Linked DNA regions of Homo sapiens: region 1 is linked to region 2. The links come from fine-mapping of genetic effects on gene expression. A gene starts in region 2. The other region holds a variant in brackets. All regions are shown on one strand. Distances are from middle to middle. Region 1 overlaps LCMT1 (leucine carboxyl methyltransferase 1). Region 2 holds the start of LCMT1 (leucine carboxyl methyltransferase 1).

Region 1 (4,000 bases), 27 kb before region 2:
GGGAGATTTGGTTGGCCTCGTGTTAATTGTAATTACATGGGGAGCCATAGAGCCTGTGATCTGTAATAAGGAAATGTATATTGCATTTTGCAGACTGTAGAACATGCTGGAATGAGTGCCAGGGCAAAAAAAAAGTTGGTGGGGGGCAGTGAACGGAAGGCAACACCCTAAAGTGAAGTCTCTGGCATTCAGATCTGCCATCTCTTGAGAGCTGGATCTGAATTCTCGCTGGCTTTTGTTCTTCTGGCCATGCCACACTTACTTGATACTGTGCAGCTTTCTCGTGACAATCATTGGAAAGTCAACCTCAAAATATTTACTTGGGAGAAGATCTTCATCCTGGGGAAAAACACACAATACTTTTTATTTCTTTACTCTTACATGTGCTGATCATCTTCCACATATCAAGCACTAGGCACCTAAGAGCAATAGTGTTTAAGGATTTTTAAATCAGGGGACTGATATGGGCAGACGTGTTTTTCGAATTACTCAAGAATAGATTTGAGGGAAGCAAGCACAGATGAAGGTAAAAAGTCAGGAAGCCAGAGGAGTCAGCCAGGTAAGAAGGTAAGGTCCAGGAAGGAGCCTGAGCTAGCAGGTGGCAGCTGGGATGATGGGGAGGAGCTGAGAGGTGCTTTGGAAGTAGAATATACTCCGTATTTTCAAAAGGCAGCTTGAGGCCAGGTGCAGTGGCTCACGACTGTAATCTCAACACTTTAGAAGGCTGAGGCAGGAGGATCGTTTGAGGCCAGGAGTTTGAGGCCATCCTGGGCAACACAGCGAGACCCTGTCCATGCAAAAAAATTAAAAAGTTTAAACGATTTAACAACAACAAAAAAGGCAGCTTGAGCTCCATTAGGAGGGTCAGGAAATCAATGTAGTAGGTTTTGACGAGCATTATTTTTTGGGTGAAATAGGTTAAAACAGCCAGTATCAAAAGCATCACATATATTAAGGGTATTATTTTCTGATATATTTTTCATTTTTTTTTTCTTTTTTTGAGACGGAGTCTCACTCTGTCACCCAGGCTGGAGTGCAATGACATGATCTCAGCTCACTGCAACCTCTGCCTCCCGGGTTCAAGCGATTCTCCTGCCTCAGCCTCCAGAGTAGCGAGGATTACAGGTGCCCAGCCTCTGATACATTTTTCTCTGTGATAGTGAAGTATGATAGATTAAAGAACAGGCACTCTTGGAGCTGGAGTGGCTCAAACCCCAGCTCCACCACTTACATGCTGTAAGGTCTTGGGAAAGTCAGTAAACTCACTGGGCCAGGATTTACTTGTTTGAAAAGTGAAGAAGCCGGGCACCCGTGGCTCACGCCTGTAATCCCAGCACTTTGGGAGGCTGAGGCAGGCGGATCACAAGGTCAAGAGACCGAGACCATCCTGGCCAACATGGTGAATGAAACCTCATCTCTACAAAAAATACAAAAAGTAGCTACTCAGGAGGCTGAGGCAGGAGAATTGCTTGAACCCGGGAAACGGAGGTTGCAGTGAGCTGAGATCGCGCTGCTGCACTCCAGCCTGGCGACAAAGCGAGACTCCGTCTCAAAGATAAAATAAAAAAAAAAAGAAAAGAGAAAAGTGAAGAAAATGCTAACACTTTATGGGGTTGTGAAGATTAATGAGGCAATACATGTGGGGCTCACAGGAAATGGCCTGACCTTAGTAAAATTATCACACGGGGATCCAAAGAGCTTGTGAGCTGTAACAATAAGGGAAGGTATACTGCGTTTTGAATACTGCACAACGTGCTGGAAAGAAGGTGCCAGGGCAAGAAGGAAACTAGGGCGGGGATCAAAGGAAAGCAGCACCCTAAAATGAGGTCTCTAGCATTTGAATCAACACGTGTGTGCCTTTATTGTTACAGACACAGGTATAGAGATGGGGGCCCTGGCTCAGGATGTAACATTTATTTCTTCTTGTGGCCTGCAGTCAAACAAATATGAAAGACACACATACACACACACACAACCACACACACACACGCACATGCGCACACACAGCCCTGGGTCACCTGGCTTGCTTGGTAGCTACACCCTCCCTACCCAGTCACGCACACATCATCCTATCATCCTAGTGTTCTCTCGGTGCCCTCCTCGCTATCCAGCCACCCAGTACTTCAGCCCTGCTGATGCCTCTGGAATCCCT[T/C]CACTCCTCCTGAGCTCTGTCACCTCCAGCCCAGACTGTCCCAGCACCCCCTCTGGTGTCTCAAAGCTGCACGCTGCTGTGTACTGCACTATCTACTGCAGGTGGCCTTCTGCAGCTCTGCACACTGCTAAAACTCAGCAAGAAACAAGGCACTCTATAGCCTGGCCCACCTGCCCAGCCTCTCCCCCTCTCCACTTATCCCAGAAATACAGAACTACTTTTTTAAAACAAAGAAGACTGCTGACATCCAGAACCTGGTGATGGCTTCGCTGGTAGAGGATGGGATGGAGGAAAAGGAAAGTTAGGGTGACACCTTGTTTCTGACTGGAGCAACTGGGCAGGTAAGAGAACCATTCATGGAGACAGTAACAAGAGATGGAGCACAGGTATAGAGGGACAGATGAATCCCGGGGGGGTGAGTGCGGCATAGCAGACCTCCTGTGGACAGCATGATGGGGGCAGAAATCACCAGTAACCATATCCTAGTAGGTGAATGACCCTTAAGAGCAAACATCAGGGCTGAAAGATACAGCACCCTCCCACATAAAGACCAGTCCTCTGCTGGAATCCCAGGGGACCCAGGCTGGGATTTATCTTTTTAAAACAAAAAAGGACGCCAAGTACAGTGGCTCACACCTGTAATCCCAGCACTTTGGGAGGCCCAGGCAGGAGGAGTGCGTGAGCCCAGAAGTTCGAGACCAGCCTGGGCAACACAGCAAGACCCTATCTCTACCAAAAATACAAATTAGCCAGGCATGGTGGCTTGCACCTGTAGTCCCCAGCTACTTGGAAGGCTGAGTTAGGAAGATGGCTTGAGCCTGGGAGGAGGAGGCTACAGTGAGCTGAGATCATATCACTGCACTCCAGCCTGGGAGACCGAGCCAGATCCTGTCACAAAAGAAAAAAAAAGAAAAAGCCATCCAAGGAGACTTGGGCTCATGAATCTGAGCTGATCACACTTAGAGGTATAGCCCATGCCTGCTGGGTAGGGTTATGCAGAAGCTATTTCAAGATACTTGAGGGGGGCCAGGTGCAGTGGCTCACGCCTGTAATCCCAGCACTTTGGGAGCCTGAGGCAGGTGGATCACCTGAGGTCAGGAGTTCGAGACCAGCCTGGCCAACACTGAAACCCTGTCTCTACTAAAAATACAAACTATTAGCTGGGCATGGTGGTAGGTGCCTGTAATCCCAGCTACTCGGGAGGCTGAGGCAGGAGAATTGGTATGGGTAGGGGGATATGGAAATAACTTTCACTAGGAATTTCAATTTCTACAACACCTTTTAAGAACTTTTACTGACAGCATATGGGAAGTTAAGGATCACCTAAAATTCCAGAAGACAATGAGAACAATTAAAGGTATATAAATGAAAGACAGCATAGTGCCCTGCAGCTCTTATGGGACTTCTTCCTTTTTAAAGAGCTTTCCCATGCATTAGAACCTTGTAAAACTTCTGAATAAGAAGTCAGAGCAGAGAAAGCTTACAAAAGGCACACCCGGAGCGCTTAAGAAAGACATCCTGTGGGGCGCGGTGGCTCACATCTGTAATCCCTGCACTTTAGGAGGCTGAGGGTGGTGGATCACTTGAGGCCAGGAGTTCAAGACCAGCCCGGCCAACATGGTAAAACCCCATCTCTACAAAATAGCCAGGCACGGTGGTGCGCATCTGTAATCCCAGCTACTCGGAAGGCTGAGGCAGGAGAATCGCTTGAACCTTGGAGGCAGAGGTTACAGTGAGCTGAGATCACACCACTGCACTGCAGCCTGGGCAACAGAGTGAGACTCTGACGGGTTGATGGGTGCAGTAAACCACCATGGCATGTGTGTACCTATGTAACAAACCTGCACA
Region 2 (4,508 bases):
ATAGCTACTGCACATTCAGCAACTTTAACTAAACAATATTCAGCCTGGAGGGAAGTCAAAACTAGCAATAATAATTTACTGAGGGCTTCACTTTGTGTCAGATCCTCTGCATCGATAATCTCATTTAATCCTGACACCCATAAAGGTTACCTTTATTATCACTGTTTTAAAAATGAAAAGACTAGGCTGGGTGGGGTGGCTCATGCCTGTAATCCCAGCACTTTGGGAGACCAAGGCGAGCGGATCACTTGAGTTCAGGAGTTCGAAACTAGCCTGGCCAACGTGGTGAAGCCCTGTCTCCACTAAAAATGCAAAAATTAGCTGGGCATGGTGGTGTGTGCCTGTGATCCCAGCTACTTGGAAGGTTGAGGCAGGAGAATCACTTGAACCCGGCAGGTGGAAGTTACCAGGAGCCAAGACAGCTGTGGCCAATAGCAACTGAAAGCCACAGAAGAAAAAGCTGAGTATAATCCACTCAAATTCACAAATTTCATAAGGGACTCTCTCTAAGACTTTAATACTTGTGTATTTATTAATTTAATCAATCACCACTTACATGGACTACATGCCAGACACTGCTCCAAGTGCTCTACTAATATTAAATATCATTTTTGTCCACACCCACCTATGATGCGTTATTATACTCCCCATTTTACAGATCAGGAAACTGAGCCACAGAAAAGTTTAGTAATTTCCCCGACTTTATACTGCCAGTAAGTGGCAACGCTCAGTTTGACAGAGTCTAGCTCCAGAATCCATGCTCTGAAAGTTTAGTCCCCAAGAACCTATAAAAAGTGCAAGGTTTAATCCAACACACTGGTTTTCCCCACTCTACAATCACTACGTGGCCTCAGCCTCCTTCTCCCACCTTTAAAGCATTTTTTGAGTTCCTCTAACAGTTCACACTCCTCTGAACACTCTCCTACAACTTTCCTATTTTTCAAGCCTTTTCTTCTCACTTTTTTTTTTTTTTTTTTTTGAGACATAGTCTCGCACTCTCATCCAGGTTGGAGTGCAATAGCGTGATCTTGGCTCACTGCAACCTCTGCCTCCCGGGTTCAAATGATTCTCCGGCCTCAGCCTCCCGAGTAGCTGGGATTACAGGCGCCCGCCACCACACCCAGCTAATATTTGTATTTTTAGTAGAGATGGGGTTTCACCATGTTGGCCAGGATGGTCTCGAACTCCTGACCTCGTGATCTGCCCACCTCGGCCTCCCAAAGTGCTGGGATTACAGGCGTGAACCACCGCGCCCAAACTCTTCTCACCTTAAACATCACTGACAAAATTACAAACTCTAATGGCACTGCCGTATTTGTCAGCACTCAACACAAAAAAATCATAATTATATATTTCATAGGTAATTATTTGCTTCCTGTCTCTCTTTTCCAACAAAGCTGTGAGTTCCAGTATGTCTGACACCATGTCTGTCTTGTTCTTGGTGTATTTCCACCATCGAATTCCTACTAACCACTGCAAAGTAAAGGCCTGGCACAAAGTAAGGTCTCAAAAAATTTTGTTGAATGAAAGAATAAATGGTGGACATTCAAGCCTCAAGCTTTCTCTTTCTCTGACACGTACCTCTGCTGGCTACGCCCCCATCCCCACCACCACACCCTTAACAGTGGAGACTTAGTGCGGTACTGGCTCTGCAAAGAGATATTACTTGGCTCTGGGTGGGTTATTTCCCCTCGTCATCCTGAGTTTCAGGTGCACAACAGGGATCACACCAACCCCCTAAAGAATGCAACCTACAAAAGAGAGAGAACCTACACCTCTCATCCTCGTAACCCATCGAGGCTGGAGCTACTATTTGCTTCATGTCTGTCTTTCCAGCAGCGTTTAGCTCCAAGAAGCCCAAGGCCTCGTCTGTCTGGCTCAGGGGCCTGCTCCCATCGACGATACCCAGGCTGGCCCCCTGCCTGGCTCACAGCAAAAGCTCAGAAACGATTCGTTAAATAAATGAAGCCCTGCTCCGTGCACTTCACAGGTGGGAAGCGAGGGTCGTGCGAGGCGGGGGCTGCATCCCTGCCAGCCTTGAGCGTATTCTTCAGATGCAGGCCCACCTCCCACCTAGGCCCGCGCCCCAGATGCCGGCCCCGAACCCCGCGCCCGACAGGCACCTCTTGCACAGGGAAGCATCTTCGCAGGTGCCGCGCACGCCCTCGTCGTCTGCGTCGCAGCTCGAGGTGGAACAGCAGGAGGTGATAGAGGATTCCCTCTGCCTAGTGGCCATGGGCGTGGAGGTTCCTGGGAGCTGTGTCCGCCAGGGACATGGAAGCGGGGTCGACGGGCGGCGGGGGACGGCGCGAGCCACAGGGAGAAAGCAACAGAAGAGGGTAGGGCCCTACCTGGCTCAGCTGGCGCGGCTCAGTGACGCCGCCCACGCCGGCTACCCCAGCAACCTCTCCGCTTATTGGCTCCTCTTCCGAGTCGCTCATTGAGCAATTCTCCTGCCCGCTCAGCCTACGAAGTTGCTCATTGGATAATTATTTTGGCACCGCCCACATAACCCGGAAATTTGACGATAGGAAAAAGAAACTAAACAGTAGGAGAGTATCGCAATCCTTTCTGGGAAGCGTAGTCTTAGGTGTCTGGAGAAGTCGCCCGGTTTCTGCTTGCTGGTCGCGAAATTTTATAGCTATAATTAACTCAGGGCGGAACAGCTAGCAGAATCCTCAGCGTTCGGGCAAAGGGCAGAGAATCCAGCCAGAAGCAACATGTGTAAGTTGTTACATTCAGTCCGGGCTCAGTGTCATTCAATTTTACAAAATTTTGTTGTGTGCTGACTCTGCCAGCGACTGTGCTGAGGGCTTTGCCCCCAAAATTGCCTTCGAAATGTAGTGAGGGGGGCGGGCGTAGTGGCTCACTCCTGTAATCCCACCACTGTGGGAAGCCGAGGCGGGCCGATCACCTGAGGTCAGGAGTTCGAGACCAGCCTGGCCAACATGGTGAAACACCGTTGTTACTAAAAGTACAAAAATTAGCCGGGCGTGGTGGCGGCCGCCTTAGTCCTGGCTACTCAGGAGGCTGAGGCAGGAGAATCGCTTGAACCCGGGAGGCGGAGGTTGCAGTAAGCCCATGTGGCGCCACTGCATTCCGTCCTGAGCGACAGAGCGAGACTCCGTCTCAAAAAAATAAATAAACAAATAAATAAAAGAAAGAAAGAAAAGAAATGTAGTGAGGGAAGTAGTGTGTGGAAAAGTAATACAATAGGAAGCCATGTAGCAGCGATCATAAATGAACTAGAGCTACCAGGTAGCAGCATCAATGGCTGAATCTCAGAAACACGATGTTCAGTGAAAGAAGGAAGTCTAACAACACTTTTGTAAAGTTCAAACCAAGTAAAACTAATGTTGTTTAGAGAAACGTACATATATGGTAAAATACTGTACAGAGAAGGCAAGACATGAGAAAAAAAAATAAAAAAGAATCAGGATATTGGTGATCTTTAGGGAGCCGGGAGGGTAGCACACAAGAGGGGGAGGGAGAGGCAGGGAAGGAGCACATAGACACATCCTCAGTTTCTCACGTGGGAGTGGGTTCACGTGTGTCTGTTTCATTATGAGGCATATTCAAGATGTTTTGGATTTATTTTGTACTAAATCTAGTACAAAATATATGTATAAATTCAAGATGTACTGGGGAAGTCGCCTGGTTTCTTGCTGGTGATGAAATTTTATAGCTATAATTAACTCAGGGCAGAACAACTAGCAGAATCCTCAGTGTTCGGGCGATTGGCAGAGAATCCAGCCAGAAGCAACCCTTGTAAGTTGTATATGTATAATAATGTTTAATATACATTATAAATTAAAAATGTCTTTGTATATTCCATTTTGTTATCTGTCAGTTGTTGGAAGCAGGAAACAGATATACTTTAAGAACTTTGAATTGCACTCATTTTTTTAAAAAGAAAATCAACAACAGAAACCCAGAATACACACCTTGGAGTGAGGTCAAATATCAAATGCTAGCTCAGTATTCTAATGGAGGCACAAGATCTCATTGATAGCCACAGTAGAAATGACAAGAGGGGAATGACTAAGGGTGGAGAGCTTTGCCAGGGGGAATGCTGATGGGATGAAATACACCATTTTCTTGGAGTGGTCCTTTGCCAAAAGGGTAATACAAACTATTGCACAAGCATCATCTCCCAGCTTAGCAGTGTCCACATTCCACGGGTGTTAGTGGATAGTAAGTGTTAACAGCAAGTACTATACGGTGTTAATCCCACAGGTCTGGACAGTGAGACTGGGGGTGACTGGAAGAAGGCGGAGGCAGATGGGTTTATACACTTTTGTTGTTGGATGAGCCTTTGATTCAAAATAGCTGGTGATTCAGAGGAATTTGGCCATCTTCCAGCTGACCTCCAGGGCCAGCTCATTCCATGTAAGTTCCTGGTTGAGGATCTGAAAGTTTATGACAGCGTGGAGTCTGGAGATTGCAAGCTTAGCCATCTCAGGCTAAATGATACCTTAATGCAAGAGACAATGCTGGGGTAGTCTTTG

Evidence for each region. PIP is the estimated chance that this variant, and not a neighbour inherited with it, causes the effect. A credible set is the group of variants that fine-mapping cannot tell apart.
Region 1: its variant is the best candidate, but not a certain one, in a credible set for the expression of LCMT1 in whole blood (INTERVAL, PIP 0.55).

Annotation. Positions count from the first base shown.
Region 1 is chr16:25,136,510-25,140,509 of GRCh38, reverse strand. It overlaps LCMT1 (leucine carboxyl methyltransferase 1), which reads right to left. Exons shown (of 11, transcript NM_016309.3): 4 at 263-339. Among named protein-coding and RNA genes, the nearest start is that of LCMT1-AS2, 11 kb to the left of the region's middle. The variant T/C (reference allele first, on the strand shown) is at 2,153.
Region 2 is chr16:25,109,612-25,114,119 of GRCh38, reverse strand. It overlaps LCMT1 (leucine carboxyl methyltransferase 1), which reads right to left and starts at 2,378. Exons shown (of 11, transcript NM_016309.3): 1 at 2,124-2,378. The coding sequence starts at 2,236. It overlaps LCMT1-AS1 (LCMT1 antisense RNA 1), which reads left to right and starts at 2,565. Exons shown (of 3, transcript NR_120306.1): 1 at 2,565-2,724. RefSeq lists enhancers at 2,071-2,230, 2,321-2,650, 2,428-2,955.